Linked DNA regions of Homo sapiens. The protein of the gene in region 2 purifies or fractionates together with the protein of the main gene of each other region. This does not show direct contact. Each region holds a gene or a part of one and is shown on either strand. Other genes may lie near its edges.

Region 1 (4,668 bases), on a different chromosome or scaffold from region 2:
TGTTCCACAGGCCCTTCTGACTGCATAGCTGAAAAATAATTATAATGCTGAATATAAGCCTTCTACTTTTATCAAAGCTGAAATTATCCTTCCTATTCTGTGGTACATGTCACCTTTCACACAGATTTGGCACTTGGTAGACAAATACATTGTAGGTAAAGGTAATGTATTATGCATTTTTATATTCCCTATGTAATTGATATGGTAGCATGCAATAAAATGTTGCCTGAATTAAATAAATATCTGTAACTGATTTTGCATCTATTCATTTAAATTACTGTTGAATAAAATTAATGAAATTAAGCTCAAAGTAAAATTAGAATTTTTCATTAAGCATCATTTAGTTTTTAATTGATATAACAGATAGTAAATTTGATTAGTAATATATTTAGTTTATTGGATGTAGCTGAAATAAAACATTCTCTACTTTCACAGCACAGAAATACTTGAATAATTTACTGAATTCTAACATTTGTCAAGATAAGAATCTAAGGAAATATGCAGGTAGCAAAGTTTTACTGAACACCTACTGTGGAGTTAGGTAAAGGGATTAAACAATAAGAAGCTGAGATTTTTGCCCTTGAGGAGCTCAATGTAGTGGAGTAAAAAGCATGTATACCACAGAATAAAATACAAAGTTGTAATTGCTGTAATGAATAACAAGAGTGTCATGGGAAAAAATTGAAGAAAGCAATGAAATGGTCAGTTTCAGTGAGAAAGCAATGTTGGATTGAGCCAGTAATTCAGTATGATTTTCCAAAGTGGATTTCATATATTCTTTGTCATTACAAGTGAAAATTTTGGTCCTAGAAGTATGTCCTTCAAATATTAAACACCCATTTTTACAATGACGTGACTTCAGCTGTAGTGGATGCTTCATTTGTCTTTGAAATTACTGTCATCTTCTCATAATAAATCTAAATAAGCAGTCTCATCAGATCTGTATTATTTTACTAACCTTCCTGTGATTCCACTTGTGTAGTGGGCATCACTGTAGCTGTTGGGGTAGTAGTGGGATTTGTAACAGTTGCAGGTGTAACCATTGGGCGGATACTAGCCCTGGGTGTTGACTTATTTCCAGCCATAGCTGCAGCTGTCACTTTACTTGGAGTAGACACAACAGGAGTTGGCTTGATATTGGCTGTTGGTGGGTCTGATGTGCTGGCACTTATAGAGGAGAAAATGGAAGAATAATTAATAACAAATTATTATGCAAATACTTTTAAAAACACAGTGAGTATAGGTCTCCATTTTTTTGTTCACTAAATATTTCAGAGCCTTATTAAAGCTGTTTTGAATTTAAGCATTAAAAACTACACAGGGAATGCTCCAGAGTGGTGCATCCTGACAATGTAAAATGTATCTAGCTGTTGAATTGCTGAACCCAAGTCTCAGCCCAGCATTTTCTATCTGTCATCATGTAACATCACGGGGAAAATCAGTAGCAGCCTAACTTAGAAACCAACTGTAAACTAAAAGATGAGAGACGTTTTCTCTGTCACAAAGCTTCATCTGATAGGACTGAAAGTATGGTGAAAACAAGCTGGCAAATACATGATACAGTTCTGCAGAGAAAACAACTCTTTAGTGTATGTTTTTACAATAGAATACACAGATTTCTTTTTCCTAAACAGAAAGATCACTAGATATTCCCTGAGCTTTAAAAGAAAAATAACAGACTATGAAATAACTAAAACTCACATTCCTCTTTCACCAGAAGCTGGAGTTGTTTTCAATGTGATCTGTCTCTGCTGTTCAGGGACCTATAAAGAGAAAGCTCTTGATTGTTGTTCCTAGCCCACAAGAGTCCACTAAAAATGCCACAAAAAAATTGTCATTATTGTTAATTCTCTCCGCATATATTGAATTTTAGCCAAAATTCACTGACAAAGGCTCCTATATCACCAAGCACTTTCAAGTAAAATGTACAAAGAAAAACAATTTGTTACTTAAGCAGAATTAGCTAATCACCTTATTAGAAGGTTCTTGAGGCTCATCTCTCTGCTCAAGGTGTCTCTCTTGATGCTCCCTGAGTTCTCTTTCCAAGCGACTAATTCGACCTTCATATTGGGACTTTAGCGCAGTAATGCGAACATCCAATTCATCTTTCTGCTGATCTAAGGCTCCATTCCTTTGTTTAAGCTCCTCATTTTCTTTAGTTAGCTGATCTTTTACACCTAAAGAAGTAACCAGGCGATTATATTAATATTATAATCAAACATTTAAAACAGCATTTATGCACTTAATTGGCACATGGTCACATCAGATTCTACTACTATAACATCTACATTAGTTATGATACATCATACATCTCAATGAGCAAAGTTCTAAGTACATTCATGCTTTAACTTATTACTAGAATATAAAATATACTTACTCCAACATAAAAATTTACTTTTTCCTAACTAAAATCTCAAAAAGCTAAAGATCCTAGTTAACAGAAGCCCGTTTATATTTCAATGTATCATGCAATTCATTACTATGAATTGCAAAATTTTTATTTCATATAATCTACAGCACTGTTTAAAAATAATTCAAGAACTTTTAAAATCAAGTAAGTTGTTAGGACACTGTCTTAGAGATCATTTTAAAAAAATGCCTGTAACAAAATCCAACTGATTTGACATTTTATTTAACTACTCAGCAGACTGATAGGCAAGGCTGAATAAAGCCCTGAGCCTTGAAGAACTAGGTTCTTCATAAATTTGACATGATACTCTCCCTGAAAAGCTAGAGGGGTCCTCCACCAAACGAGGCACAAAAAAATCCCTGGGCTGGTAAAGATCTTTATGCAGTCTACATAAGGTTTCTAGACAGCACGGTCTGGGCTCAAAGGATCTCTGTCACAAGATAGAATTGTTATCCATGAAAGCAGAAGGATAGCAGTATTCCATTATCTACTGCCAGCCAACAATTGAGAAAAATTTCATCATATCAAGGATATCCTCATCACTTGAAAATTAGGATTGCTCTTTGTGTCCAACTAATTATTCCTAATATTTAAAGCACACATACACACACAAACACCCTTCATAAGTAGATACCTTTTATTTCTATTCCATTTAGTTTTAGGCCTGCAACACATAATCAACTTTCACTACCAAGTTCAAACTTTAAACAGATATTTACCAGCTAAGTGTGCAATTTTTGACTTTGCTGCTACAATAGCCTTTCTGGTTTTTTCTTCCTTTTCAGTTATCTGTTGTCGGAGCTGCTCCTCCTGTGTGGTTCTATCTTGAAGATCCTGACGAAGTCGTGAAAGTTCAGACTGAAGTTGCACAGTCTGTTCCTGGAGATTTCTTGCTTCTGTCTCTTTTTCAGATAATGTCTTTAAAGGAAAACAAAGTATTCACCATGGAATTCAATCATTTCAATATAAACTGTATGTGGTAGCAACTTAAAGTATAACTTATTAATTTGCTTTTTAAAAGATTAAATGGAAGTATAAGTATAAAAATGGTGGTCAGACCAACTAAATGCACACTTGAAGATGATTGGGTACTACTTACATACATGAGCCATTCAAAGTAAAAAGAATAAAATGTATCCATTCCCACATGGTAAGACAAAGTGTCAGTAGTTAACACATATTTCTTTAGGTGTATAACAGGAAAGAATTAGGAACAGACTGTTCTCACACTCATACCTTCTGCAGATTCTCTACTTGACTTTCAAGTGATTTTGATTTTGTTTCAGCTTGGTTGAGCGTTTCTTTGAGTTCCTGCATTTCCTGGACTGAAACATGCTGCTCCTGATGGTCTCCAGAGGACTGAGCCGATGTCTCCATAACCTAAGACAACAAACAGTAATAATACACTCACATATTTATATTCAGTAATTCCATTTCTGCAAGTTTGTCTAAGAAAATAATCACAGCTTTGCAAAGAAATTTTATCCCTGAAGGTATTCAAAACAGAATTTTCTATGAAACAACTGTAATCTCCAAAAATGGGGAACTAGTTATGGTTTTCCACATAACTGAATACTAAACAGCTAATCAAAATGATGCATTATAGTTGAATTTTCAACACTTAACTGTATTTTCATGATAATGAATCAAGTGAAAAAAGTATACAAAAGAATATAAGCATATAATATTATTTCTTTGGAAAAACGTCGCTTACATGTATGAAAAGGGATACTAATGTACTAATAGTGGCTAAAACAAAGGGGTATTAATTGTGAATTTTTTTTCTTTATATTTATTTTCTAATCCAACATGAAATAAATACATAATTCTCAACATACAAATTCCTTACCTTCAGGAATTAAAAACAATATTTAGATTCAAAATATAAATATAACAAAGATTTCTGAATTTTTTTGATAGGTGGTTAACATAAACAATTTATTTAAAACTATACAAAACCAGATTAGTCATCATTTTTTAATATACACAATTCTAATTAGCAATGAGTTATAAGAACATAGCTTTGAAAATGGAGAGTATTTGAAAGGTGAAGACTGAACTATCTAGTATTTACCAAAATTTGTGAGTTTATAATGCATTTTCAGACATATTAAAGAACTAATCTTAAATAAAGATATCATATATGCTTACACGATTTCGGTATCTAAAAGCTAGTAATATTCAAAATTACAAAGAAATAAGATTTCATAACATTCATCCTAGTTTTTTTTTGTAAGATAAGTTTCTTCAAAATACCT
Region 2 (4,668 bases):
CTCCACAATGTCCTACTGGCTACACAGGTAAAACCCTATTCAATGCAGGAAGGGACAAGAAAGTTGTGAATACCAGGAGATAAGAATCACTGGGGGCCATTTTGGAGCCTAGCTGACACAATGAGTAAACTTTCACTACATATAAATAAGAAAGTGACAGAAAAATAATTTTGCTCCTGAGAAAAATTTTCTAATGAATACACATATATTTGTTCAAATTCTCAAGTTATTTGACTCTGCCAAATTTTCCTCTTTCTTTATAGGTCACGTTATCATACTCCAGAGATTGGAAAGGGGAGATATTTATTTAGTAAGTTGGAGACTATAGATTAATTTCTTACCGACCACCATCAGTGTGAACTCAAAACCTTTTTTCACTGATTTTCGGTGAACTTGATTGGGGAGGTTTGCAAATCCAACATAGCCAGGTGTTTCTGGATTTATAAACTGAGTTGGCTGTTGCTAAATAAGATTAAAAAACAAACAAACTAATAAACACCTTAGTAGTTGCTTTTAAGATATAATCAGTTAGACATGAAACAAACATAGGTTATCAGTTTTCACAAATTTTTTAAAAAGTATAAACACTTCCAGAAGGTCATACTTCTATCAGAAAACCAGTAGTATTCAACTAGGAGCATTAAAAAAAGAAAAACTTATCTAGTATAACTCCTTAGTTGTATGCGACTGAAAATTAACATTTTGTTAATCAGTATTCTGTTTAGGAATTTAACAATACATAGAAGATACATGCTTAATACATCTTAATGCAATTTCAAATTTCGACTTGAGAGACTATGGAGTTCCAGGAAAATCAGTCAAGCTTACAAAGTACTGCTACAGCTGACAGTACTTTGAATGAATGGTTTCATTCAACAAACTTGGCTAAAGAATAGCTTCTCCCAGGTATTAGGTGCAATGCATTTCTGAAAAGTATCGAGGAAAAAAGCATCTCTCTTGCTGTGCTTCTAGCTCTATAGAACAGAGTTTCATCAAGGGTGAGGCAGGCAAATTAGGGGTGGGATGTTGAGTATCTAGTGTCAAAGACCAAGAAAGAAAAGACAGAATGAGAAGATCATAGATGACTACACTGAAGCATCAATATTCCTTGACAGAAGGGTATCTGATGAGAGAGAGGACAGAGATATGAGAAGGCAAGAATAGCAGAAGTAACCAGAATCTAGACAGTGGCATACTGAAAATGAGAAGAAATTTTAAAAATCAATTTATTAATTGAAAAAGGCAAGATACAAAATAGTATTTCCTTTAGGATTACATTTTGTAAATGTATAGTCAAATGCACACACAGGTGAAAAAGAATATATGTAACATATTAACAGTGGTTATTCCTGAGTGGTGAAATAATGACTTTTTTTTTTGCTTATCTGTGTTCCATGCTAACACTGGTATAAAATGCAAAAACTGGTATGATGATTTTGCATTGGACAGTAATGAACACCCACAGGATTCAAAGATAAAAAAAAAACAGAAATAATAATCTTGCAATGTTAACCACAAGTTCTGCTTTTCTCAGAATATGTTCTTTAGCACTAATTTATCTCTGAACTAACTTGCAAAGGCTGATTTAAACCAATTTATCAAGTCTAAGAGCCCCATCAATTTCATCATAATAAATTATCAGAATTCTAAATTATCTGGTCTGCTGGGAATGAACTAAGGGGGCCAAAAGGACTGTTACTGATGTGTGTAGAGAAAAGAAAGTAGAAGCCTGAAAAAAGAGAAAGCTCCAAGCTTTTAAGATGACAATTAGGCCAGGCACGGTGGCTCACACCTGTAATCCCAACACTTCGGGGGGCCAAAGCGGGTGGATCACGAGGTCAACAGATCAAGGCCATCCTGGCCAACACGGTGAAACCCCGAATTTACTAAAATCCAAAAAATTAGCCAGCGTGGTGGCACGTGTCTGCAGTCCCAGCTACTCCGGAGGCTGAGCCAGGGGAATCGCTTGAACGTGGGAGGCAGAAGTTGCAGTGAGCTGAGATCATGCCACTGCACTCCAGCCTGGTGACAGAACAAGACTCCCGTCTCAAAAAAAAAAAAAAAAAGACAACTAAATTAGAACTCTTTGTGTTAATGAATCAAATGTATCAGTTGTATTAAAAATAATGAATCATATAAGTCCCGACTGTCAACAGTCTGAAAACATAAAGCAATTTCTCCTTATGCTGTAGATACATGAAGTATGATCTTACCTTAGACATCTTTTGTGAAGCTTCGTCTGTTAAAAAAAAAACACACAGACACACATAAACGCACATACATAGTATGTATGTATACGCACGTATATTTAACAGCGTGAACTGACCTGAAGAAGACTTACACATACATAGGCAATGTAAAAAGAAAATACAATTTCAGGACCTTCCAAATGCATTAGGCCAAAGGGAAAAGTTAAGCACTGACAGCTGGCTCGTGTAACATCACTACTTTTATTCTTTCTGACTTTTGTGTTTAGATGTATATATTAACCAGACCCCCTATTCTTTATTCAAAACTAGACTAAATGACTGGGAGATGAGAGATCCTTATGACTGTTACTTCTTTACAAAAGGAAGTTAAACAAATCCCTTCAAGTGTAATCAATAGTAGCCAATCAAATTTGTATCTTTAAATGAGCCTTAGTTCCGAAAATGTTATAATTCTGTTTGGCACCTCCATTTTGCCTATATAAACAATCCTCATTTTTCCCCACCCTGGGAGCGCTAATCACCATTCTTTGGTGTAGCTCGCTTACACTCTGTACTTAAATGAATTCTTTTAACTGAATCAGGAGCCTTTTGATTATTTTAGGTGACAGCATCTCAATTACTTCAAATATTTCCCTAGGAATAAGACAAGCATCTATCATTACAAAAATAAATTCGATTAAAAAAATTAGGCCAGACGTGATGCTCACGCCTGTAATTCCAGCACTTTGGGAGGCCGAGGTAGGCAGACCACTTGAGGTCAGGAGTTCAAGACCAGCCTGGCCAACATGGTGAAACCCCATCTCTACTAAAAATACTGATTCAGCCAGGCATGGTGGCGCTTGAGGTCAGGAGTTCAAGACCAGCCTGGCCAACATGGTGAAACCCCGTCTCTACTAAAAATACTGATTCAGCCAGGCGTGGTGGTGCGTGCCTGTGATCCCAGCTACTCAGAAGGCTGAGACAGGAGAATCGCTTGAACCTGGGAGGCGGAGGTTGCAGTGAGCCGAGATCATGCCACTGCACTCCAACCTGGGCAACAGAGTGAGACTCCATTAAAAAAAAAAAAAAAATTAGATGGTGGCTGGGTGCAGTGGCTGACGCCTGTAATCCCAGCAGTTTGGGAAGCAGAGGCAGGACTGCTTGAAGCCAAAAATTCAACACCAATCTGGGCAACATAGCAAAACCCTATCTCTACAAAAAATTAAAAAATTAAAAAAATTTTTAAGTTGATAAAAGCAACTGTATATATATATGTACGCACATATTCCATATTTTCAATAATATTCAAATTTTTTTTCAGTACTGACTATATGTTAGACACTAGGGACACAAATGGGATACACACGGATACATACTTCCCTGACCTCTGGAATTATGTCATTTCCCCTCTCTCTTTGAAACCTTTCAAGGAGTAAGGGACTTCATTACATAGAGCACTGTAACTTGAACATGTTTGCCACCCACTGGAGTTTCCTAGAGCTACCTGAGAACTAGATTTTGACACTGGGGTACAGAGAGCAATGTGAACTACATTTATGAGGAAAGGAAATAGTACTGAAGGCATCTGAGTGTCTGAAAAATGTGACAATATTTTTAAAGATATGTGGAATTTTTTTTTCTCTTTTCTTTTTTTTTTTTTGAGACGGAGTCTCGCATTGTCTCCCGGGCTGAAGTACAGTGGGTGATCTCAGCTCACTGCAACCTCCACCTCCTGGGTTCACGCCCTTCTCCTGCCTCAGCCTCCCGAGTAGCTGGGACTACAGGCGCCCGCCACCATGCCCGGCTAATTTTTTTTTAATTTTTAGTAGAGATGGGGTTTCACTGTGTTAGCCAGGATGGTCTCGATCTCCTGACCTCATGACCCGCCCGCCTCAGCCTCCCAAGGTGCTGGGATTACAGGTGTGAGCCACTGTGCCCAGCCAGAGATATGTGGAATTTTTAAACAAATTTTAGAAACCCTGAAGCTTTGGAAAGCATGGAGTCTGTTGGCTAACCTTCAGTAACAACCCCAAGAAAGATGACTGCTGTCAAATTTGGTTCCCTCTGGAGCTTAGAAACTTATTAAAAAGCTTCTCTCACTTTGCCTCTCGATTCCCCTCCCCCAAATCTTAACTTCCTGAATACTGTGTCCTCTGTTTCCCTTTTGACTGGAAATGTTCCCAGCTACTTTGGAAGAAATGAGATCCCTGCATCCCCAGTGTTATTTGGCTTGGTTAACCAAGGGATAGTAGCAGTAAGGTTCAAGAGCCTTTAATTTCAGCAAAACCTAAGAATTGAGAGCAAGTGTGAGTGTGGAGGAGTAGAACTTCCTAAAGGGAAAGAGAAGGGTCAGATGTAATACAGACAGTTTTGGCAGAAGGAGTTGGCATCTCGTTTTCAAATAATACAGAGATAAGTATCTGATTATGAAAGTAAAAAAAAAGGTAATCATTAAAGAAAATAACAATGAGAACTTCCA
Region 3 (5,242 bases), about 73 Mb from region 2:
TGTATGCAAACTACCTCAAATGCCATTAGGATGGATATGAAAATATGGGTGGAAATTTAATACAGACATTAAATGATATTTATAACCATGTCTAAATACAGATATTAAATGATATAACAATTATGACAAGGCAGTTATAAATAACTTTTTTTCTTAGTAATATATATTTGCTTTTTAAAGTATATTAAAGAGCCACCATATCTAGGGTTAGCTAGGAAAAAGCAATGGCACCATCCTGGGAGTCCACCCCTCTGAAAGATTTTTGATTAGTCTCCATGTTGCAAAGTCCTCCAGTTATTCATGTACATTTTATCCTCTTAGTAGAAGATAAGGGTCTTGTCTTTTCACCCACAAGTTGTACAGAAGAGTGTAAAGAACATGCTCTGAATGTCAGGAAGTGAGGATCCTGGGAGTTTAGCTCTGCAAGTAGTCCTGTAAAGGGCCTTGGACAAGTCATTCAACCACTCTGAGCCTCAGGGACTAACAGCATTAAAATGAATGAAGTGGTTGGAAGGAATCATTCTCTCTTGTCCCCTATAGCCCTATAGGGGTTTTAATTCGAAGACCATCTGTCTATATGGAGTAGAAATGTTTGCCTTTCATTCTCTCCTCATGCTAATTCAAGTTACTTGTCAAACCCAGTTCTCTGTACTGGATGCATGATGCCTCCTCACTCTGCCTCTAGGGCACTTTCACTAGTTAACTCTTACTAGGCATTTTATGAAAGTGCTAAATGCCATTGCAGTAATGCAGATGATATCTAAAGGAGGAAAGAAACAATGCAAAACAATCTCATTGTGCAATACACTTTTATTTTCCTTTTACCTTTGCAGTCATCTTCGAGTAATCGTTGTGTAAACAATAGAATGGAATGAAATTACATTAAATTGTATGCAAATGGCTCTAGAACACCTTAACAATTATGACAAGGCAATTATAAATAACTTTTTTTCCTTAGTAATATATATTTGCTTTTTGAAGTACATTAAAGAGCTGCCATATCTAGGGTTAGCTAGGAAAGAGCAATGGTACCATCCTGGGAGCCCACCTCCTTGAAAGATTAGACTCCAATTTTCAAAATCCTAAGGTTTACTAGTTCCATAATATACAGTCAAGCAGAGGGCTACTTGGGTTGAAAGTATTGATTCTTGAACCTTAACAGCGTTTTACCTTTTAGTCATTGCACAAAACCCTTCCAATTTTCACTCCACCTGGGTATTCTGCAAAATTTCAAGTAAAACTCAGATTCTGATATTTTCAAGTTTATCACCTTTAGAATAACAAATCCTATCACTTAAGGAGAGCCAAATCAGAGATGGGTATATAGTTAGCAATCTAACAGAATGGCAACATTTTACATAGCATTCTAAACGGTCCAATGAAGCAAAACTTAACATATGCCACCTTATATAGAGGAAATTTTAGATCTGAGACTATTCCAGAGTAAAGCAGCCTCAGGCACATTCTTAATGTGAAAGTTTGCAAGGCACCTCCCTCTCCCAAGAGACAGTCAGATTGTAAATTGGTTTTTAGGCAAACAGACTAAAAGAATAAGCATCCAAATTCCTAATTCAGTCATTTCAAAATTTAGAAGTTACAAATACTCCAAAGACAGACCCAAAACTTTTTGTTTAAATAACGAGATTAACTGCAAGAAGCATATAATCAAAACCCTTTTTTTCTTATAGCTAAGGTGTGTAATGCATAAATATATGAAAAATAAAATTCACAGTCAGTTTTAAAACTAGAATTCAAGTTTGGCTAATAAATCTTAATTTTATAAGTATATTAATTTCTAAATACAACATAAAAGAGGCAGTATTGTCAGATGTACAATTAAAGTATTATAACAGAAATAACAACAATGAAAGGAGAAATAGGCTTCTGGATAGAAAATTCCTTTTGTTGCCAATAAATAAGACCACCTGAGTGTATTTCAGATTCTTTTCACTTAAGGGATATCCAAATTGATTGCTAAGAATATTAAATAGCTTTTGGAAAAATGAGCAACAGTCGTGCAGCTGTGGCATTTGCTTGTTCTTGTACTGTGGATTGCTAGAGAATAAAGCAGAACTCGGAGTGTTGTAAGTTTTAAAAAATTATTTTTTTATCCCATTTTGTTGAAGCCGGCCTCTTCACAATCTTCTGATTTTGCTAGGAAATGGGAGTGAGGGGGTGGGAGGAAATGGGCAGAAAGAGGGAGGGTTGAAGGGAGTAGGGGTGGCGGTGGGGCATGACAGATCAGGGTGACATCAAGGGACATACATCAGCTGACACTCAACTGAGCAAACCCAATCAGCTTCACTTCATCAGGAATCTCCGACCCATCACAGCCAGAAGCCTGAAAAGGGAAAAAGAAAGCCTCAATGCTGGTTTGCTGCTGCTGCTGGTTGTTAAAGTCTTGTTCCTATGATGGCAGATCTAAGCAAAGGCACAGTTGGTATGGGACCATGTGTCCCATTTCTTCCAGAAGAGAGACGCCAGCCACTCTCTCGAATGACTACTGGAAGCTAAGTGCTGTCAGCACTGTGGCCATCATGCTATGAAGTACAGAACAGAGGTGGGAAGGGATTTGTTATCCATTAAAATACCATGCCCAGGCTGGAAGCTTTGGAACAGTCAGTGAAACACCCCTGCTAAGAAACCACAAACAAATTTTTCAAAAACTAAATAAAATTATTTTAAATATACTTTCTAACTAAATCACCTTAGTAATCATTCTGAGAACAACATGAAAATAAGCAGAAGAGATCTAACAGGTCACCCAGGAGTAATTTAGTTTTTACCAAACTCATTTCTTCTATGAAACTTGCCAGGAAAAAGTCATCACCAAGTACTGCGATGGGCTCATTAGAGAGAACTGCTATATAAATACCAGTGAATAAGTTTTACAGGGAAAGGTATTATAACAATTCTTTTCTATAAAAGAATTTTGTTTATATTTTCAGACATATTAATTGCCTAAAATTGGCAAAAATTATGGTGTGTCAAATACTTTATTTTTCTTACTTCAGAATCAGACAGAACTGGAAAAAAGCCATTGCCTTGGCCAGGCATGGCGGCTCACGCCTGTAATCCCAGCACTTTGGGGGGCCGAGGCAGGTGGATCATGAGGTCAGGAGATCGAGACCATCCTGGCCAACATGGTGAAACCCCGTCTCTACTAAAATACAAAAAATTAGCCAGGTTTGGTGGCACACACCTGTAGTGCCAGCTACTTGGGAGGCTGAGGGCTGAGGCAGGGGAATCACTTGAACCGGGGAGGCAGAGGTTGCAGTGAGCCGAGATCGTGCCACTGCACTCCAGCCTGGCGACAGAGCGAGACTCCACCTCAGAAAAAAAAAAAAAAGGAAGCCATTTCCCTTCAAACCTCTCACTGGTCCTAATTAATAAGTTATTTCGTTTTTCTTGTGACCTCTCCCCCTTGCTTGCTTTTAGACACACACACACACACACACACACACACACTCTCTCTCTCTCTCTCTCTCTCTCTCTCTCTCCCCCCCCGCCCCCTCAGATCCACCATTCTAAGCTGCCTCTCATCCTATAGTACATAAATCAGAATTGGACATTACATAAGAACAACAAGGAAGGGAGAAAAAAGTATGATGAATGACTGGGAATGGGCAATTAATTACCAAAGGATCATACAAACCTTTTCAGAGCCTAATTCCTGCTAAATTATTGTCACAACAATTAGTTTCCCATGGAAACGTGCCCTTTCCAATCACCACAATTAAGCTGCATAGCACTGCTTGTATACATTTAGAATATGTACTATACTGTTTTTTGAACTGTACTGTTCATAGTGTACTGTTTTTTGAACTGTTCAAAAAAACAGTACAGAAAACCAGCATCAACTCTAGCATTTTCTATTAAATAATCAGCTAACTATAATGTTTGTACCTTGAATATTTTCAAATGATTATCTTTAAAATAACATCCTATGTAAGTAGTTATGCTTATGTAAAAAAGTCACTAGCCTAAAGGATAAAAATATTAATCAGTATTTAAAGAAAGGAATTTACTTTGTACCTATCCAGTGATATCTCTGGTTTCATCTGACAGATAAAGATGTTCAGAGAAGTAAAATTGTCATTGTTTGTGTTGACAGGGGCGATGAGGTCTGAAATGCTCTTCTCCTTATCACTTTCAACAAAGTAGTACAGGCATAGAGGGCATTTTGGCTGAGGTATTTCTGGTGGTGTCACACTGACACTGTAATATTCACCTTCCCTATCCATTTTCTCCTTGTGTTATCACTGTTTCTTTATCTACCTTCCTAAATCATCCCTTCTCTCTCATGTGTAGCTCTTGTTAACATCATTTACTCAACCCACTGAATAATGGCAGACAACCTGTGTAATTAACAGGCAACTGACAAACATCCAAAGACAAACTATGGCTGCTGGTGGTGACAAAAAGGTCACATTGCCAAATGTGAAGTACACCAATGTACTTCAAATCTTCATCAGAAATTTGGCAATGTGAATATCAGGAGGTTAAAATGACTAGAATAAAACTACAATATCCAATAGTGGTTGAACTGACTAGAAATGAGAATATTAAATCCTTTCTTGTGAAGAGTAATGGAAATGAGAACTTACTAGAGTAGGTGATAAACCAGTGGTTACGGTGAGAACATCACAGAAGGAGTCTTCACAAAGTTCCTACCCACCCTGGGTCCTCAGTGCCTCCCATAGCTACACTGAAATGTCTGTCTCCTGGCCAGGACCTTTGGCTGTGTTTGCTTCAAGGCGCTCAGCCCTCCTTCCTCTGCTACCTGGGCTCTCACTGCTGAGTCCAGGGCTCTCTCAGCTTGCAAAGCACAAATGAGGGTGATATGCAAATGACTCTGAAATTCAGAGAAAGGAACCAATGACCCTTCAAAACAGCAATGTTCAAACTTTGGGGTCTTAGGATCTCTTGATACTCTTCAAGAATTACTGAGGACTCCAAAAAGTGTCTGCTTATGTGGGTTATATTCGTTAGACTGACTGTCTTAGAAATTAAAGCTGAGAGATTTAAAAAGTATTTTAAATATATTATTTGAAATTATGTCAAGATATTGAAGTAATAATATAAACAGTACATTTAAAAACATAAAATAGGTTTACATAAATTAATTATACTATCTTAAATTAAAACTAAAACATTTTAAAAATATTCCTTTACTAATTCATTAAACTTAACAATAATAAACTCATTACATACAAACATAAATAAAATCTTCATGGAAAAT
Region 4 (4,310 bases), on a different chromosome or scaffold from region 2:
TGAAGGGAGGAAACTTTGGAGGCAGAAGCTCTGGGCCCTATGGTGGTAGAGGCCAATACTTTGCCAAACCACGATACCAAGGTGGCTAAGGCAGTTCCAGTAGCAGTAGTGGTTAAGGCAGTTCCAGTAGCAGTAGTAGCTGTGGCACTGACAGAAGATTTTAATTACTGCCAGGAAACAAAAGCTTAGCGGGAGAGGAAAGCCAGAGAAGTGACAGGGAAGTGACAGGTTAAAACAGATTTGTGAACTTGGCCAAACACAGTGGTGGCAGGGCCTAGCTGGTTCATGCTTTTTTTTCAAGTGAGTTTCCCTTCACACAGTTTCCATTTGAGTCCCTAAGCTCTCAGGGCTACCACTATACTTGATTCATTTTGCATTTCCACTGTGTATCTCCCTCCCAGTTTCTCCTCCTCTTGAAAACATCACTTTTGTGACCTCCGTAAGTTTTCTTCAGCCTTACATTTTTTCAATTTCTTCCAAACTGAGGTGATAACTCTTACAAATTCTTTTTCCTTTCATAAGTAACCATTCCTCATGCATGTATTAGACCTTTAACTGTTAAGAATCTAACATAGTATTTAAAAAGTTAATTTTGAGGTAGCACTAAATTCAAATTACTTTACAATTTGCCATAAATACTGCGTTTTGCTTGACATTAACAGCAGCAATTCCACATTTCAAGAAATTAAGCAGTATTAGTAATACTGCAGGTATCAAAATTTTTTTTTTAAATCTTCAATTACATGTGGGCAGATGAAAACAACTACTAATAGAAATTTAAGGGAAAGATATCCAATTAAGGGAAATGTGTCCTAAAGGAAAAAGTGAATAAAAATTGAGAAAACAATTAAAGAAATGGAAAGAAAAGACCACTTTACGGATTATAAAAGTTATATTTATTCACGATGCTACATTTATTGCATTCCCTTAGAAAAATGGAGAACTGTTTATGTACCCAATCTGCACATATAAAATTTTATACAAATTATGTGTAGCACATAAAGGCCTCTGGTACAGCTAAAATCCTGACACTATAATTTGGGTATTCCTGCTTTAGGGTCTCCAGTTTATCAGGTCTGTCCATAGAAAACAGAAACTGGAATTATAGTCAGTCTTGCTAACACTTAGAAACTACTTTAAAATACAATAAAATTTTCATTTACCCTAAAAGTCCAAATGGGAGGGGATATATTTTGTTACCAATTTCAATGTAACAGTATGACAAATTCACACCTCATTTTGGCTGGGCTTTCAAAATTAAAAAAAAAAAATCACCTTAGTTCTGACATTATCTAAGTTGTGGCTGCTTCAGAAGGTCATATGACAAAATATTTACCAAATAATTAAAAATAATAATAATAATATTCCTTTTACAAAATGGTACAGTAATACCTTAAGGAACCGGAAAATACTAAATGTCTTTGGCTATACAACTAAAAGGCCATTCTTTCAAAAGAATAGGGCATATTCATTTCAGAATCAACTAAAAAAAACAGAAAGCATAACAGAAATATGCATAGAATTTAAGTATACTTTGTCTTGCCTTCTTTTCCCATTCTACCCACATAAGCAAGGAGAATGCAATTTATATAATCTTTCCAGATGAGACTCAATAGCACTACAAAGAAAATACCCAAATTTCTGCAAAGGCAAAGTGAATTAAAATAATTACACAACTAGGTGAAGACTGAAAGGGACAAATGTTATTTGCAATTTTCTTTTTAACTTGTTTTTAAGCCTTACAAGTGTAGAAATTATAGCTAATAAACAAAAAGTCACAATCTTCACAAATGGAACTACAATAGAAAAATAAATCAAATGAAACACTTAGTAATAAATGAAGCCTATTTTATTACTTCAAGTGTTAATGATAAAAAAATTTCAGCACAGCTGTTGCATTTAAAAAAGTGAAACTACATACTATGTTTCTAGCTCAGTAAACAGATGAACCTGATGTCTTTAAATGACATAACAATTGAGCATTGTACAGTACATCTTATGAAGACCCGTAAATTAAAGAACTACTGGTTTAAAGTTAGTGATTATGAAACAAAAACATATTCATAGTTTCAGCTTCTTTTTTCTTCCTCGACCATCAGGTGCGCCATCCATTTTACGTTTCTGTGTCTACAAACAGACAGAAGGATTACTTTTCACAAGACTAATATAAACATGAAATATAGTTGCAGACACATTATAACACTTTAGTAATAACAACTACTACAAAGTAATAGGTATGAGACTTTTCCCCCAGGCTATATAAATCTTTCAAAGCAAACTATAAAGCCTCCAAATAATCTTACCTACTTATTTTACTTACAGAATAAAAAATGTTAATGTTAATAATGACGTTATAAAACTAATGCACAATTAACAGTAGTAGATCAATATCAAATAAATGCAAGCTTCCCAAAATAGTAAGAAACACTTGAGTTTTTAAAAGGCAGTTACATAAGTACCAAATATTATCCAGAGATACTCATTTATTCATGACTTTATAAATTAACCATTTTTTATTAAATTAACTATTATTAAATAACATTTTTTCCCTTTAAGTGTTTGCCTTCACATTGCTAAAACATCACTGAAATAATCAAAGCTTAGAGACTAACAGTAAAAGTCATAATACCACTGCTTTTCCAATGTTTCTTAAATTATTCTAAAATTATAACTTGTATTCTCAATGAGATGTGTACACACTTGACATTTACGAGACATACTTTCCTGATTTTCACGAAGCCCCATATTAAGGACTACCATATCATCAAGAAGTGATTTTTCCCACACAACCCAGTCAAGCTAAATTTGTACTTTTTAAGTATTTCAAGGAAGTCCTAGCTACAGCAATCAGACGAGAGAAAGAAAGAAAGGACATCTAAATCGGAAACAAAGAAGTCAAATTGCCCTATTTGTAAATGACATAATCTTACATTTGGAAAAACCTAAAGACTCCATCAAAAAACTATTAGAACTCATAAACAAATTCAGTGACACTGCAGGATACAAAATCAACATACAACAAACAGTAGCATTTCTATGCCAACAGTGAAGAATGTGAAAAATAAAAAGTAATCCCATTTACAGTAATTACACGTGAAATAAAATACCCAGGAATTAATCAAAGAAGCGAAAGATCTCTAAGATAAACTATAAAACACTGATGTAAGAAACTGAAGACACAAAAAAATAGATATTCCATGTTCATGGATTAGCAAATTCAATATTGTTAAAATGTCCATACTACCCAAAGCAATCCACAGATTCAATGCAATCCTTATCAAAATACCCATGACATTCTTCACTGAAATAGAAAAAAAAATACTAAAATTTATATGGACCCACAGAACACCCAGAAATAGCCAAAGCCACCCTAAGCAAAAAGAATAAAACTGGAAGAATCACATTACCTGACTTAACTTATAGTACCGAGCTATAGTAACCAAAACAGCATGGTGCTGGTATAGAAACAGATACATAGATCAGTGCAACAGTGGAAAAGAACAGAGAACCCAGAGATAAGTCCGTAAAGTCCATACATCTACATGGAACTCATTTTTGACAAAGCTACCAAGAACATACACTGGAGAAAGGACAGTCTCTTCAATAAATGGTAATGGGAAAATTGGATATCCATACACAGAAGAATGAAACTTGACCTGTATCCCTAACTATATAAAAAAATCAAATCAAAATGTATTAAAGACTTTAAGTCCTCAAACTGTGAAACTACAAGAAAACATTGGGAAAACTCTCCAGAACACTGGACTGGGCAAAGATTTCTTGAATAATACCCCACAGGCAACCAAAGCAAAAATGGACAAATGGGATCACATTAAGTTAAAAAGCTTCTGCACAGCAGAGGAAACAGCAAAGTGAAGAGACATCCCACAGAATGGAAGAAAATATTTGCAAACTACCCATTTGTCAAAGGATTAATAAATAACCAGAATATGTAAGAGCTCAAACAACTCTACTGAAAAAAATCCTAACAGTCCGATTTAAAAATAGGCAAAAGATCTGAACAGATGATTCTCAAAGGAAGACATACAAATGGCAAACAAGCATATTAAAAGCTGTTCAGTATCACTGATCATCAGAGAAATGCAATCAAAACTACAATGAGATAACATCTCATCCCAGATAAAATGGCTTTTATCCAAAAGTCAGGCAATAACAAATCCTGACAAGAATGTGGAGAAAAGGAAACCCTCATACACTTTTGGTGGGAACGCAAATTAGTACAATCACTGTGGAAGCAGTTTGAAGGTTCCTCAAAAAACTACAGATAAGAGTTACCCTACTCCTAGGTT
Region 5 (4,668 bases), on a different chromosome or scaffold from region 2:
CAGGTGTGCACCACCACACCCAGCTAATTTTTTGTATTTTTAGTAGAGAGACGGGGTTTCACTGTGTTAGCCAGGATGGTCTCGATCTCCTGACCTTGTGATCTGCCCGCCCTGGCCTCCCAAAGTGCTGGGATTATAGGTGTGAGCCACCACACCCGGCCGCATAAGCACTTTCCAAGCCTCTGCTTGTATCATGTTTGCTATTGTTCTAGTGGCTGAAGCAAACCACATAGTCAAACCTAGAAGGAGAGCAACAATCCAAGGGCATGGCTACAGAAAGGCTGGCCCAGTTGGGGTCATTAATGGGTATACCTGGCTCCAGAACTAAGGCGCTTTACCATCATAAGCTCCCAATGTTTAAACAGTAAGTCTGCCCGCACTCCTTCCAGGGTGGAAAAACTCAGATACTGATAAATTCTCTTGATCACAGCCCAGTTTTTCCCAGCGGATTCCCCACCATCCCTCCTATCCCCAGACGCTGGAGTCTAGGTTTCCAGCCCAGTCAAAATCTCAAGGATCTTTCTTTTCCCTCAAACTCCAAAAGAACAGACACGCAATAGGATTTCTATTCATTTTTATTCATTCCTCCAAAGAGCACCACAGGCCAACCACACCCTTGATGTGTCCTTCATGGTTCCCCACTGCAGTGGACACAAATCCCTCCATCATTATCCAGGCATGGATGGAACTCTGCTGTGGTGAGGAGGTTGTCTCGCCCACTCACCCAAGTTTTCCATGCCTGTTCTGCTTTTGATGGCAATGCCAAAATTCATCATACATTTCCTTGAATTCCTGCCTTCAAGGGTCTTCCAGCCCTGTGGTGCCATGCAGACACACTTCAGTGGCGGCCAGTGATCTGTCTACAAGGGAGTCTTAGTCTTTTCTGCTTGGATGCTCCCAGGGACAGATGCCTGCCAACAACCTTATGTCTTCACAAAGACTAAAATGGAATCCCATTAAAAGTTATGATTTAAAAGGCGACCACCCCCAAAAGAAGTCATAACACTCAAGGGTGTCAATATATACAACTGTGTAAACACAACCAATCTACAACTATATCAACACAACCAGCACTCCTCTATGGGCACAGACACACACACAAAATTGTCTTGCTTTCTCAGATATGATCTCTGGCATGACTCCTGCTGGCATGAGGGCAGAGGAAATTGAGAGGAGCAAAGCATATAGCAGTGATGTCAGACAGGACCAAATCAGAGACAGGGTCAAAGTGGCAGAAAAATGAGGAGCACACTCCGAGCAAAGGCATGGGGGTGAGACAAAGGCACCCAGACTAGAGCCATCTTGGTGCTGCCCAGGGGTGGGTGGCACTCATGTTTGAGCTCCATGTGTCAGGCTTTTCAGGAAAGGGTGTACTATGTTATGTGTCTGTGTGCATATTGTGTGCCTGCATGTACATACATACGCTGAATTCTCACCATAACCATGTGAGGTAGATGCCATTTGTAGAGTGACTTGCCCAAGTCAGTGGAAGGACTATCTGCCCCTAGAGCTAGACTGATAGAATTTTCTATGTTGATGGAAGTATTCTGTACCTTCCCTGTCCAATACCATAGCCACTAATCACATGTGGCTACTCAGTATTAATGTTGCACTACTGCCAATGAAACATAGAATTTTAAGTTGTATTTACTTTTAATTGAACAGCTGAGGCCAGGTGTGGTGGCCCATGCCTGTAATACCAGCACTTTGGGAGGCCGAGGTGGGCGGATCACCTGAGGTCAGCAGTTCAAGACCAGCATGCCCAACATGGTGAAACCCCGTCTCTGAGAAAAATACCAAAATTAGCCAGGCATGGTGGCATACACCTGTAGTCCCAGCTACTCAGGAGGATGATGCAAGAGAATCAGTTGAACCTGGGAGGCAGAGGTTGCAGTGAGCTGAGGTCATGCCACTGCACTCCAGCCTGGGTGACAAAGTGAGACTCTGTCTCAAAACAAAACAAAACAACCCAGCAACTTGGTCAACATAACCAGACCTGCATCTTTACTTAAAAAAAAAATGGACACCCATCTCAGTTTTTGGAAAACTATTATATAATTGGAACAACTTGGATATGTGAATCTACTTCTCCAACTATGAATTTTATGAAATCAAAATAAAGGTCAAGCATTTCAGATAAAAATGTACCATGGTAATTGAGATTTGGTGTAAGTGTAAAATATATAACAGATTTTGAAGACAGCACAAAAGAACGTAACATAATTCATTTAAATAATACCGATGACGCCAGGCACGGTGCCTCACGCCTGTAATCCTAGCACTTTGGGAGGCCGAGGTGGGTGGATCACCTGAGGTCAGGAGTTTGAGACTAGCCTGGCCAACATGGCGAAACCCCATCTCTAACCAAAAATACAAAAATTAGTGGGCATGGTGGCGGGTGCCTGTAATCCCAGCTACTCGGGAGGCTGAGGCAGGAGAATCACTTGAACCTGGAAGGTGGAGGTTGCAGTGAGCCGAGATTGTGCCACTGCACTCCAGCCTGGGCAACAAAGCGAAGCACTATCTCAAAAAAAAAAAAAACTAAAAAACCGATGACATGTTGAAATGCTATTTTGGATACATTGGGTTAAGTAAAACATGTTAAAATGAATTTAACCTGTTTCCTTTTACTTGTCTAATGTGGCTATTAGAAAACTTGGCTTACTCAGCACTTTGGGAGGCTGAGGTGGGCAGATAACTTGAGGCCATGAGTTCCAGACCAGCTTAGCCAACATGGTGAAACCCCATCTCTACTAAAAATACAAAAATTAGGACGGGTGCAGTGGCTCACGCCTATAATCCCAGCACTTTGGGAGGCTGAGGCCGGTGGATCACCTGAGGTCAGGAGTTCAAGACCAGCCTGGCCAACACAGTGAAACCCCATCTCTACTAAAAATACAAAAATTAGCTGGGCATGATGGTGCATGCCTGTAATCCCAGCTACTTGGGAGGCTGAGGTTGCAGTGAGCCAAGATCGCACAACTGCACTCCAGCCTGGGTGACAGAGCAAGACTCCGTCTCCCAAAAAATAAATAAATAAATAAAATAAAAATACAAAAATTAGCTGGGCGCGGTGGCTCATGCCTGTAATCCCAGCACTTTGGGAGGCCAAGGCGGGTGGCCTGAGGTCAGTAGTTCCAGACCAGCCTGATCAACATGGTGAAACCCCATCTCTACTAAAAATACAAAAATTAGCCAGGCATGGTGGCATATGCCTGTAATCCCAGCTACTCAGGAGGCTGAGGCAGGAGAATCACATGAACCTGGGAGGCGGAGGTTGCAGTGAGGCGAGATCGTGCCACTGCACTCCAGCCTGGGTGATGGAGTGAAACTCCATCTCAAAAAAAGAAAACTTAAAATGACATATGTGGCTTGCATTTCGTTTCTACTGGACAGTGCTGCCCTGCAGCCCTCCCATTCCATCACGTGGCTGACATGCCTGATTGCAGGGCTTAGACACTAATATGATGGGGTAAAGATATGGATGAATATTCTTCCCCAAAGCTGAAAGAGCTTTCATGAAAATGCCTGGAGCCATTCAGTATAGAACTAAGTGCTCTTCCCCATGGTAGCTATCTCAACTTTGAAGGGACAAATTTTGTCAGCAGTGGGAGTCCAAGCTGGAGATGATGGTACCATCCCTTGTCTGCCCTTGGATCAGTTACCTTTGTCTTCAGCTTTTAAGGGAGACAGGATCTCAAAACTAAGGTTCTTATCCAGCTCTTTTATTTCACAGATGGGAAAATAAGGCACTGTCCAAGTAACACACAGTGACAGTGGCAAAGTCGTGCTTGCTTCCCAGGTCCCTGACCTCAGACAAGGGTGTTCTCTCCCATTAAATGCTTTTTTCTCCTCATCTTGCTCCATTTTCCTATCTTGTGGCAAGAGATTAACAATCTAAATTCCAATCCTAGTTCTGACACTGACCAATGAAATAAACATTTAGGCTGGGTGTGGTGGCTCACACCTGTAATCCCATCAAGGCAGGAGGATCACTTGAGGCCAGGAGTTCAACACTAGTGTGGGCTACAAAGCAAGACCCCCGTCTCTACAGAAAATTTGGTGCTGTGTACCTATAGTCCCAGCTACTCTGTAGGCGGAGGTGGGAGGATCGTTTGAGCCCAGGAGTTGGAGATGGCAGTGAGCCATGATCATCCCACTGTATTCCAGCCGGGGCAACAGAGCAAGACCCTGTCTCTAAAATAATAATAATAATAATAAATATTTACGAAGCACCTATTGTGTCAGGCACCTATTGTTCTAGATGCTGGGGAAACAACAGAGAACAGGACAGGCAACGGGTCAAAAGCCAATAAACAGGTAAATAAATAAGATCATTTTTGACAGTAATAATTGCTACAAGGAAACTCAACTGGCCGAAATGAATAGTGGGGGAATGTGAGCTACTTCAGATAGGGTGGTCAGGGAGGGGAAGTCCTCTCTGAGGGGATACGTGAGCTGAGATCTGACTGAGCCCGTCACAGGAAGGTTTGAGAGTAGAACAGGAAGTTGTGAGTAGAGCCTTGAAGGAAAGAGAACAGCAGGTGCATGGGTCCCCAGGCAGGACTCAAGGTAGCCACTCAGGCATCAGAAAGAGTCAGGCGGCCATGATGGCTCACACCTGTAATCCCAGCACTTTGGGAGTCTGAGTCGGGTGGATCACCTGAG
Region 6 (3,726 bases), on a different chromosome or scaffold from region 2:
TGTACTTTTTTTGGAAACATGTCGAGTATAAGGACATAAACGAAACGGCCCACATCGCCAAACACTGCCACTAACCCATCTAAAATTACCATTTGCCCACCACCCACATCACCAAACACTGCCACTAACCCATCTAAAATTACCATTTGCCCACCACCCACATCACCAAACACTGCCACTAACCCATCTAAAATTTCTGCCCACCACCCACATCGCCAAACACTGCCACCAACCCATCTAAAATTATCTGCCCACTACTATAGTATACAAACCTATTTTTTTCTAAGAGACAAGGTCTCACTGTGTTGCCCAGGCTGGAGTGCAGTGGCATGATCATAGCTCACTTCAGCCTCCCAGGTGAATCGACACCATCACCTTCTTGAACTTCATCACATACAAATGGGCTTTCATGAGATGGTCAAGTAGTATGTCCTGCCAATCTTCACTGGGTGTGTAGTTAGGGCCCAGCCACTCCCCTACTCCACCAGCAGGATCTGTCACTGAGCCCCCACAAGGAGCAGAGCAGGGCAGGAGAGCCTGGGTGACTCCCACCTAGAGCCAGGAGGTTTTTGAGGATGAGGTATGTGGACACGTGGGCATGGTTTGGGATGGCCTCACTTGGAACGTTTTGGTCTTAGGAATGAAATGCTCAGCCCCCAGCACTGACTTGTGGCAGGTGCCCCAGACCGGTCAGCTGGCTGTCACCATAGTCACACCACCAGCACGCGCCACCCGAGTAGCTTGGGGAAAGTAATACCAGAGTGTCTAAAGGCGGATCTGCACCGCAGGCTTCTGTGTCTCCCACAGCCATTGGCATAAGGAAACACGGACACGGACTACTGGCCCTCAGTGTGCCGTGTGAGCATCCACGCTCCCTCCCACGAACACATGGGGTTCTTGACACAAACTCGCAGGAACGAGAAGGTAACATGGGTCGGGCCCACCCACTGTGTCTCACCACAGATCAGCCTTCTTCCCAACATCAGTGCAGTCTACAGCGTGTCTACTGATTATAGCTAAGCACTTCTTCACTAACCAGTTAGAAAAGAAACCCCAAAAGGCTTTCCATGACAGCCTCGAGAAATTCCGGATTATTTAGCATGTAGATCTCACCTGGTATGTGTTTTATTTCATGCCCTAAGATAAAAAATATTATTTCATTTATACTCAAAGTGGTGGATGGATATTAATCTTTACCTCCAAGATGACTAGCAGATTTATAAAGAAAAAGAAATTTAAAGAACTTCCACAAGAAATAAGTTACACCAAGAATACTGTTATCACTACAAATTTTATTCAGAAACCCATCTTTGTATGTTTTTTTTTTTGTTGTTTTTTAAAAAAAATTCCCCTTATGAACTGGTTTGGTCAATCAACTACAACACTTTCTAGCAGACATAAGGTAAAAATGGCATGGCTCAGAATCGCCCAGATCTTTCACGATCTCTCGACCGCCTCCTGTCACGCTCCCGTCCGCCGCCACCTCCACCACCGCCACCGCCACCGCCACGACCACGGTCTCTAGACCGAGAACGACGCTCCCGGGATCGGGATCTTGATCTATGCCTGCAACCAAGGAAAATAAAGAAAACCGTGCCATCCAAACCACGGCACGCAGCACAGAACCACACCCACTCTCTCAACACGCGCAGCTCCTCAAGCCAACGGCACTGATAAGGAAAAACACTGCTGAAGAGACTGCACGCCGTGACTGAGACACACCCTGATTTCAGGTGTGAAAAGTTTCAGGAGAAAAAAATGTGCAACTTAGAAGTGAACAGGTGTAATACCTTGCATCTTCTGTCTTCTTCTAGAACCAACTCAAATGGTCACAGGAAATCATAATCAAAATGAGCTGGACACATACCATCTTCAACCCTCACTGACCCCACGCTTCAGGCGCTCATAGCTACTGTGTCCATCAGGTTTTTGGGCTGGGGAGAGCAGGCCTGTTTTTCTCTTATGCTTCTTGAATGCTGACAATAAAACAATCGCCACCCATCTATTTACTAGTCCATGTTTAACAGAAGAGGGATGAGAACCTCTCCAGACTCAGAACTCAATCGGTTCGATTCTGACGTCTTGATTTTCTCTGCTCTGTGACCTGTCGTACATTTAAATGTAGGATCAGAGAGATGTGACCGCTGGGCCTGATTCTGCCAGTGTCCCGAAGGGAGGATGCCAGCGATCCCAAGACATAATGAAATGCCCTAAAACCAACAAGCAAAACCAAAAGAAACCCCAGTGGACATGTGAAATATGTAAAGCAAAAGCTTGTCCAACCTGCAGCCCAACACAAATTCATCAACTTGCTTAAAACATTATGAGATTTTTTTTGCAATTAAAAAAAAAGTTATCAGCTATCATTAGTGTATTTTATTTGTGACCCAAGACAATTCTTCTTCCAATGTGTCCCAGGGAAGCCATCCCTGATCTAAAGGAGGTTACAACATCTATTCTTCTTCTTCGTAATATCTGGGAGAATAAACTGCATGCCCACTTTCACCACGAGCCTCATGTCCGCGGCTGCCCAGCTAACCGCCCTCTTGCTTGATTACTAAGATCTGATCTCTACTTGAGAAGTTGGATAATGAAGTTACCTGTGTGCAGGTGAATATTCTTCTCCAAAGAGGACATTTGGATATTTAAAAATATGTACTATGTTCTAAGCACTGCCTTTTAAAAAACAGAAACGACACCTATGCCAAAATTTTTTTTTTGGAAGGGGGAGGGTTGTGAGGGGAGAAAGAAGCCACTGAGCTTAACAACGGGCACAGGAATACTCACTTCTTGCGACGGCGGCCATACAGCTCCCGCCGCAGCTCTCTGGAAATGGGCTTCAAATGCATGAAGTTGCAGAAGCCGCCTCGTGTGCATTCTCTGTGGGTGGGTTGGAAGGAGACATTTACTACCTCGTGTGCACACGGCCCCGAACTGTGCTCAGTCACGTCACTGGCCACTCCTCACTCACCCCATCTCATACTGACGGCAGCAGGCTTCTCTGAAGTCCGTCACGGGTGACAGCTCGGCGTGGATCGGCTGTCCATTAAACCAACGGTTATTCAAGTCAATCACAGCCTTTTCCGCATCTTCCTCACGGCGAAACTGAAAAGACAAAAACAGAAGTGCTTGCCATCCACGCTTTAATAAGACTTTCTCAATTACCAATCCAAGTATATCAGAGAGAGATATACACACTCAGGTATAGTAAGGTGGAATAGTATTACAGGATAATTGAAAAATCCTTTATTTTCAATGAGATTAACTTCAAGATAGTCCAAGATTTTGCCAAATGTTGCCTTCATTTTTCAAATTCAACTGGTTAAAGGAGCAAATATGGCTGTGTAGGCAAATAAAGTTTTATTCACTAAAAAAGAAAAAAGAAACCAAACATGTGAGTAAACCTAACTTTTCCTTAGTCCACACAGCTTCTAAACCAACAGGTACTAAATATTCTACACTGAAATAACGATGGCTGTGGTGTACGGTCCGTCCTTCAGTTCTGCTGGCTGGGCGCACGTGTGGGCTGGCCACCGCCACATATGACGCAGCTGGTAGGCGCCGAGCCAGTGCACCTGAGCCCTGCTGTGCGCCTGAGCATCCAGGATCTCAAGGTGCATGGCGACAGGCACCCCATCCTCTGTCGGCCTTGGCCCCGGCACACTAAGCGGCTGCACCACTGTCTCGCTTTCGCCTGTTGGCCTTGGCCCTGGCACACTAAGCGGC
Region 7 (4,314 bases), on a different chromosome or scaffold from region 2:
TTTTTCATTAATCCTCTCTCACCTCACAGATACCCCCTCCCATGGCAAATAATATAATAACCAGTGAATTTTCAGGAATTTAAAAATTAGCTTTTTTCCACTTAAAGGAGAAAAATATTTGGGACTAGCAGCAGAGGCAGTAAGAGATGTGAACCTTGGTGAGCTCTGATACAGTGAGAAGAGATTATACTCATGAAAGAGAATGTTAGTGTTACAGAGAAGCAGCCGATAGCAAATCGACTGTAGAGACTTGGCGGCGGTGGCATTGCCCCAGGTCGTCAGCAGTGTGGTATTATCTATGAGAACTTGAGCGACAGAGTATTTCTTGATGAATTTATAGATCATTTGAGATGTTGAGTTACTTTAGTTTAGTTTTGTTTTGTTTTTTCAAATAAGTAGAGACTATTGTAAAAAACGAGAAAGGAAAATGAAATGTGCGTGTTGATAGCAATAATTTGTTTCTTTTAAAGATTCTAAAAGGTCTGAGACCTGTAGCATTAATTATTTGAGTGCCCTCCCTTCTCCCCTCCCCTCCCTTTTCTCTTCTCTTTTTTCCTCTCCTCTTCTTCTCCTTTATTCATTGTTTTGCTTTTGGAGTGGGTGTTGTTCAAGTATCTGTGGTTTGGTTCTGGCATTTTGTTCCCACCATCCCCTTCCCCCATTAACTTCCCCCCTGCTTGCCATCCTGCAGTAGTATAAATCATGAATAAAAAATAATTTTGCTGTTGTAGTATACATTGGAGAAACTGGCAGGTTTTATTTCCATTATTTTATTTCCACTATATCTATGATAAGATGCAATTATAAGGAGAGAAGTGACTGTTTTTTATTGATAAGGCAAGATTTTCAGAAAAATGAGTAAAATAATTAATGAAACATATTTAGAGCACTTAATGGTCTCTGTTTTCAATATAATTCTTGATTTCATTTTTCTCTGGAATATATTGGCCTTCTACAGCTATTACTGAATTATAGAAACTGGTTTATTTCTGGCAGAAAGCTGCAGTGCCACCTGAGTTCCAAATTTTACCATTCTTTGTAAACAGTTGGATGGATTATGATAAAGAAGATGCTACCAATGAAATAGAAAACCAACGAGATGAGAAGACTGTGATCCTCATGTACTCAGAGGCACTTCCCTCCTAAGTCAAAGACCATCCTCACTGACTATGTGCCAACGCCTCGTTTCAGGCTTGTGACTCAACAAAGGGCTTTTCCATTGATAGAAGCAGTTTGGGATTTGTAGTTGCGACTTCTTCGATAGTTACCTGCACGTCCATTGCTGGCAACTGACTTGTCATTAAAACCTGGCTCTTTGGTTAAGGGAGCTACGCTGTGGTTTATTCTTAAGTTACGTGGATAAACTAACCTCTAACAGAAATATACTTTGGTTAATTTTGAAATGTGTCATTTTTAAACAATCTTAAAAGTAATACAGAATTGTGATTTATTAATTTTAAAACATTCAGAACTTGTTGAAAGAAAAATTATATCTGAATCAAGATTCATGTTTTTTATTTTTATTTTTTTTGATACAGAGTCTCACTCTGTCACTCAGGCTGGAGTGCAGTGACATGATCTCAGCTCACTGCAACCTCCGCTTCCTGGGTTCAAGCAATTCTCATGCCTCAGCCTCCTGAGTAGCTGAGACCACAGGCACCCGCCACCACACCCAGCTATTTTTTTGTATTTTTAGTAGAGACAGAGTCTCACCACATTGCCCAGGCTGGTCTCCAACTCCTGAGCTCAGGCAGTCTGCCCACCTTGGCCTCCCAAAGTGCTGCAGTTACAGGCGTGAGCCACTGCACCTGGCCTCATGTTTTTTAAATAATTGCCTTTTATATTTACCCTTTTTGTCATCACTTTAGAATGAAAATTCCCATTTAAATCTGAAAGTTACCTTAATAGTCCTCTTGTGTTATTAGGACAGTATTATTATAGTACTTATTTATTTTATTTTAGATTTAAAGTTATCTTCTCTTTTTCTTTTTTCTTCTGCTGCTTTTAGGGACAATTAAAACTGGGAAACTATGAAACATGGAACATTTTATCCTACCTGAAAGTAAACGAGTAATTGTGAAGCATAAGACACTGAGGCTAATACAACTCTGTCTTCATGTGTTGACTGCCTGGCACATAGTATTCATTCTCTTCCCTTTAACATAGAAGTGTCCAGCTGCGTACAGTCTAGTAACCAGCAACTGTAAACGAACCTGTGCCTCTAACAAGCGATTCTAAACCACCTATGAGTATTTCTTTTAGGGCTCACTTAAATACATGTTTGTATATACTGTATTCTAGCCAGAATAATTTTAGATCTGATCAGGTAGTAGCTAAAATTAGAAAAAAACAAAATAGATGCTTAAAGAATTTGCATCCATTTTTGAGTCTAAATCTTTTAAAATATACTGAGATCCACATCTAGTGAAATGTCAGTGTCAAAATATTATAGATTATAGCTAAAATCCAGATTAATACTCATTTGGGGTTTTTTATAGTGGAACTTCATAGTAATACAAAAAGCAGATTGTCTTCCTGTCTCCGCTGCTCCCACAGTAGGTATTGAAACTGGTAAAATCAGTTTTTTGATAGTGTGTGTATATAAGAAAAAATAGATACACACATTCTTTTTTCTCAGTCAACACATTGATTGAACACTCTGGCAAAGATGCTGTGGTGGATGAGGTTGGAGTTCGAAAGAAGAAGCAAGCGCTGGCCTGGCCTTGAAAGAACCGAAGTCTTTCCCATTCACTTCTCTAGAAAGCTGCCAAGACAGAGGCAGAAAGAAATGGATGATAGTTCTGTCAAGCACACTTCTGTTCTCTTAGAACTTAGAAGTGTTTCTAAGAGAACAGAAGTAATAAGAGAAACAGTTACGTGTGGAATTCAACATCTTTGGTTGGAACGCATTGGCTTTTTTTTTCTTGTTTTGATAGAAATGGAATTAAGCAAAAGTAGTTTTTGTCTTTTCTGTTGTCTTCAAATTTTATGCCTTTTATTTTTAATTTAATCCCGTTCAATTATTTAATTGTTATACATTGACATTAACTGCTGTATTTTGACTTTGTTCAATAATTTTGTTCTTTCAGGGCTAGAAATAAACTTTTTAAAAAAAGTGTGCATTTTTCCCTTTCCTAAACTTTTATTCTTTCTTTTGATCAGCGTAAAAGAATATTTTAATGTCTTTTGATAGCATAAAAGAATATTTAAATGTCTTAATAGGTTTTCAAAGAACATTTAGTATTTTTAGTGATAAATGTTTTAAACCTTTTAATGGTGTTGTGCCATCATTTTGAATTTATTACAAAGCTCCAAAGTAGGAAGGTTTCTAGAAATGTGTGGGCAGTAAACATGAAGTTTTCCTTTTTTTTTTTTTTTTTTTTTTTTTTGAGACAAGTCTCACTCTTTCTTCCAGGCTGGAGTGCAGTGGCGCCATCTCAGCTCACTGCAACCTCTGCCTCCCAGGTTCAAGTGATTCTCCTGCTTCGGCCTCCTGAGTAGTTAGGGGAAGTTTTCCCTTTCTAAATCAAGTTCAGAATAATTTTCTTTATCAATGTTTCTCTATCAGACCCAGGGAAACAGTTCTGATTTGAACACACACCTTGCTGGAGTAATAAAAACCTGATCAGAATTTCTGTGTTAAGTGAACCAAGAAACCTTTTAGAGTGCAATACGTCGTAAGGCATCACTTCATTATGTGAATTAATTTGGAATCTTAGGTACCCTAACATAGGGAACAGCCACAATAATGGTTTACTATCAAAAAGCATAAAATAAGGCCAGGCGTGGTGGCTCACACCTGTAATCCTAGCACTGGGAGGCTGAGACTGGCGGATTGCCTGAGCTCAGGCAGGAGACCAGCCTGGGCAACATGATGAAATCCCATCTCTACTAAAATACAAAAAAAAATCAGCCAGGTGTACTGGCACATGTCTGTAGTCCCAGCTACTTGGGAGGCTGAGGCACAAGAATTGTTTGAACCCGGGAGGTGAAGGTTGCAGTGAGACAAGATCATGCCATTGCACTCCAGCCTGGGTGACAGAGCAAGACTCCTGTCTCAAAAAGAAAAAAAAAAAAAAAAAAAAAAAAAAAAAAAAAAATATATATATATATATATATATTCTGGGTGAGAAGGGGAGGCAATGACTTTGAAATGTATTTGTTACACTATATGGCTGTTTCGTCTTGTTCTAACATTTATATTTCTTTGAACTAATAGCAAATGCTCAAAGCATTGCCTAAGAAAACTTTTAAAAGCCTGTGGTTAATTTCAGAAGCTCTATCTCTAGGGCTTGGCGGGAGGATGGCTCGAGC

The links.
Region 1: the proteins of SEPTIN2 (region 2) and TPR fractionate together in Homo sapiens (co-fractionation; one large-scale study listed by BioGRID). This does not show direct contact.
Region 3: the proteins of SEPTIN2 (region 2) and STK39 fractionate together in Homo sapiens (co-fractionation; one large-scale study listed by BioGRID). This does not show direct contact.
Region 4: the proteins of SEPTIN2 (region 2) and SMARCA5 fractionate together in Homo sapiens (co-fractionation; one large-scale study listed by BioGRID). This does not show direct contact.
Region 5: the proteins of SEPTIN2 (region 2) and IRGQ fractionate together in Homo sapiens (co-fractionation; one large-scale study listed by BioGRID). This does not show direct contact.
Region 6: the proteins of SEPTIN2 (region 2) and U2AF1 fractionate together in Homo sapiens (co-fractionation; one large-scale study listed by BioGRID). This does not show direct contact.
Region 7: the proteins of SEPTIN2 (region 2) and PAK2 purify together in Homo sapiens (co-immunoprecipitation; one large-scale study listed by IntAct). This does not show direct contact.

Annotation. Positions count from the first base shown.
Region 1 is NC_000001.11:186,333,367-186,338,034, forward strand, and holds part of TPR (nucleoprotein TPR), read right to left. Parts: coding exon 4,667-4,668; intron 3,791-4,666; coding exon 3,647-3,790; intron 3,329-3,646; coding exon 3,130-3,328; intron 2,178-3,129; coding exon 1,972-2,177; intron 1,764-1,971; coding exon 1,702-1,763; intron 1,168-1,701; coding exon 959-1,167; intron 29-958; coding exon 1-28.
Region 2 is NC_000002.12:241,321,787-241,326,454, reverse strand, and holds part of SEPTIN2 (septin-2), read right to left. Parts: intron 2,240-4,668; coding exon of another isoform or gene 2,223-2,239; coding exon 2,214-2,222; intron 463-2,213; coding exon 342-462; intron 1-341.
Region 3 is NC_000002.12:167,953,230-167,958,471, forward strand, and holds the end of STK39 (STE20/SPS1-related proline-alanine-rich protein kinase), read right to left. Parts: exon of another isoform or gene 2,348-5,242; intron 2,342-2,347; coding exon 2,267-2,341; 3' UTR 793-2,266; downstream 1-792. UniProt on the Homo sapiens protein: Effector serine/threonine-protein kinase component of the WNK-SPAK/OSR1 kinase cascade, which is involved in various processes, such as ion transport, response to hypertonic stress and blood pressure.
Region 4 is NC_000004.12:143,550,936-143,555,245, reverse strand, and holds part of SMARCA5 (SWI/SNF-related matrix-associated actin-dependent regulator of chromatin subfamily A member 5), read right to left. Parts: intron 2,128-4,310; coding exon 2,062-2,127; 3' UTR 1-2,061. UniProt on the Homo sapiens protein: ATPase that possesses intrinsic ATP-dependent nucleosome-remodeling activity.
Region 5 is NC_000019.10:43,585,379-43,590,046, forward strand, and holds part of IRGQ (immunity-related GTPase family Q protein), read right to left. Parts: 3' UTR 1-4,668. UniProt on the Homo sapiens protein: Autophagy receptor that specifically promotes clearance of misfolded MHC class I molecules by targeting them to the lysosome for degradation.
Region 6 is NC_000021.9:43,091,684-43,095,409, forward strand, and holds the end of U2AF1 (splicing factor U2AF 35 kDa subunit), read right to left. Parts: intron 3,106-3,726; coding exon 2,972-3,105; intron 2,881-2,971; coding exon 2,788-2,880; intron 1,567-2,787; coding exon 1,419-1,566; 3' UTR 1,273-1,418; downstream 1-1,272. UniProt on the Homo sapiens protein: Plays a critical role in both constitutive and enhancer-dependent splicing by mediating protein-protein interactions and protein-RNA interactions required for accurate 3'-splice site selection. Recruits U2 snRNP to the branch point.
Region 7 is NC_000003.12:196,829,374-196,833,687, forward strand, and holds the end of PAK2 (serine/threonine-protein kinase PAK 2), read left to right. Parts: 3' UTR 1-3,274; downstream 3,275-4,314. UniProt on the Homo sapiens protein: Serine/threonine protein kinase that plays a role in a variety of different signaling pathways including cytoskeleton regulation, cell motility, cell cycle progression, apoptosis or proliferation.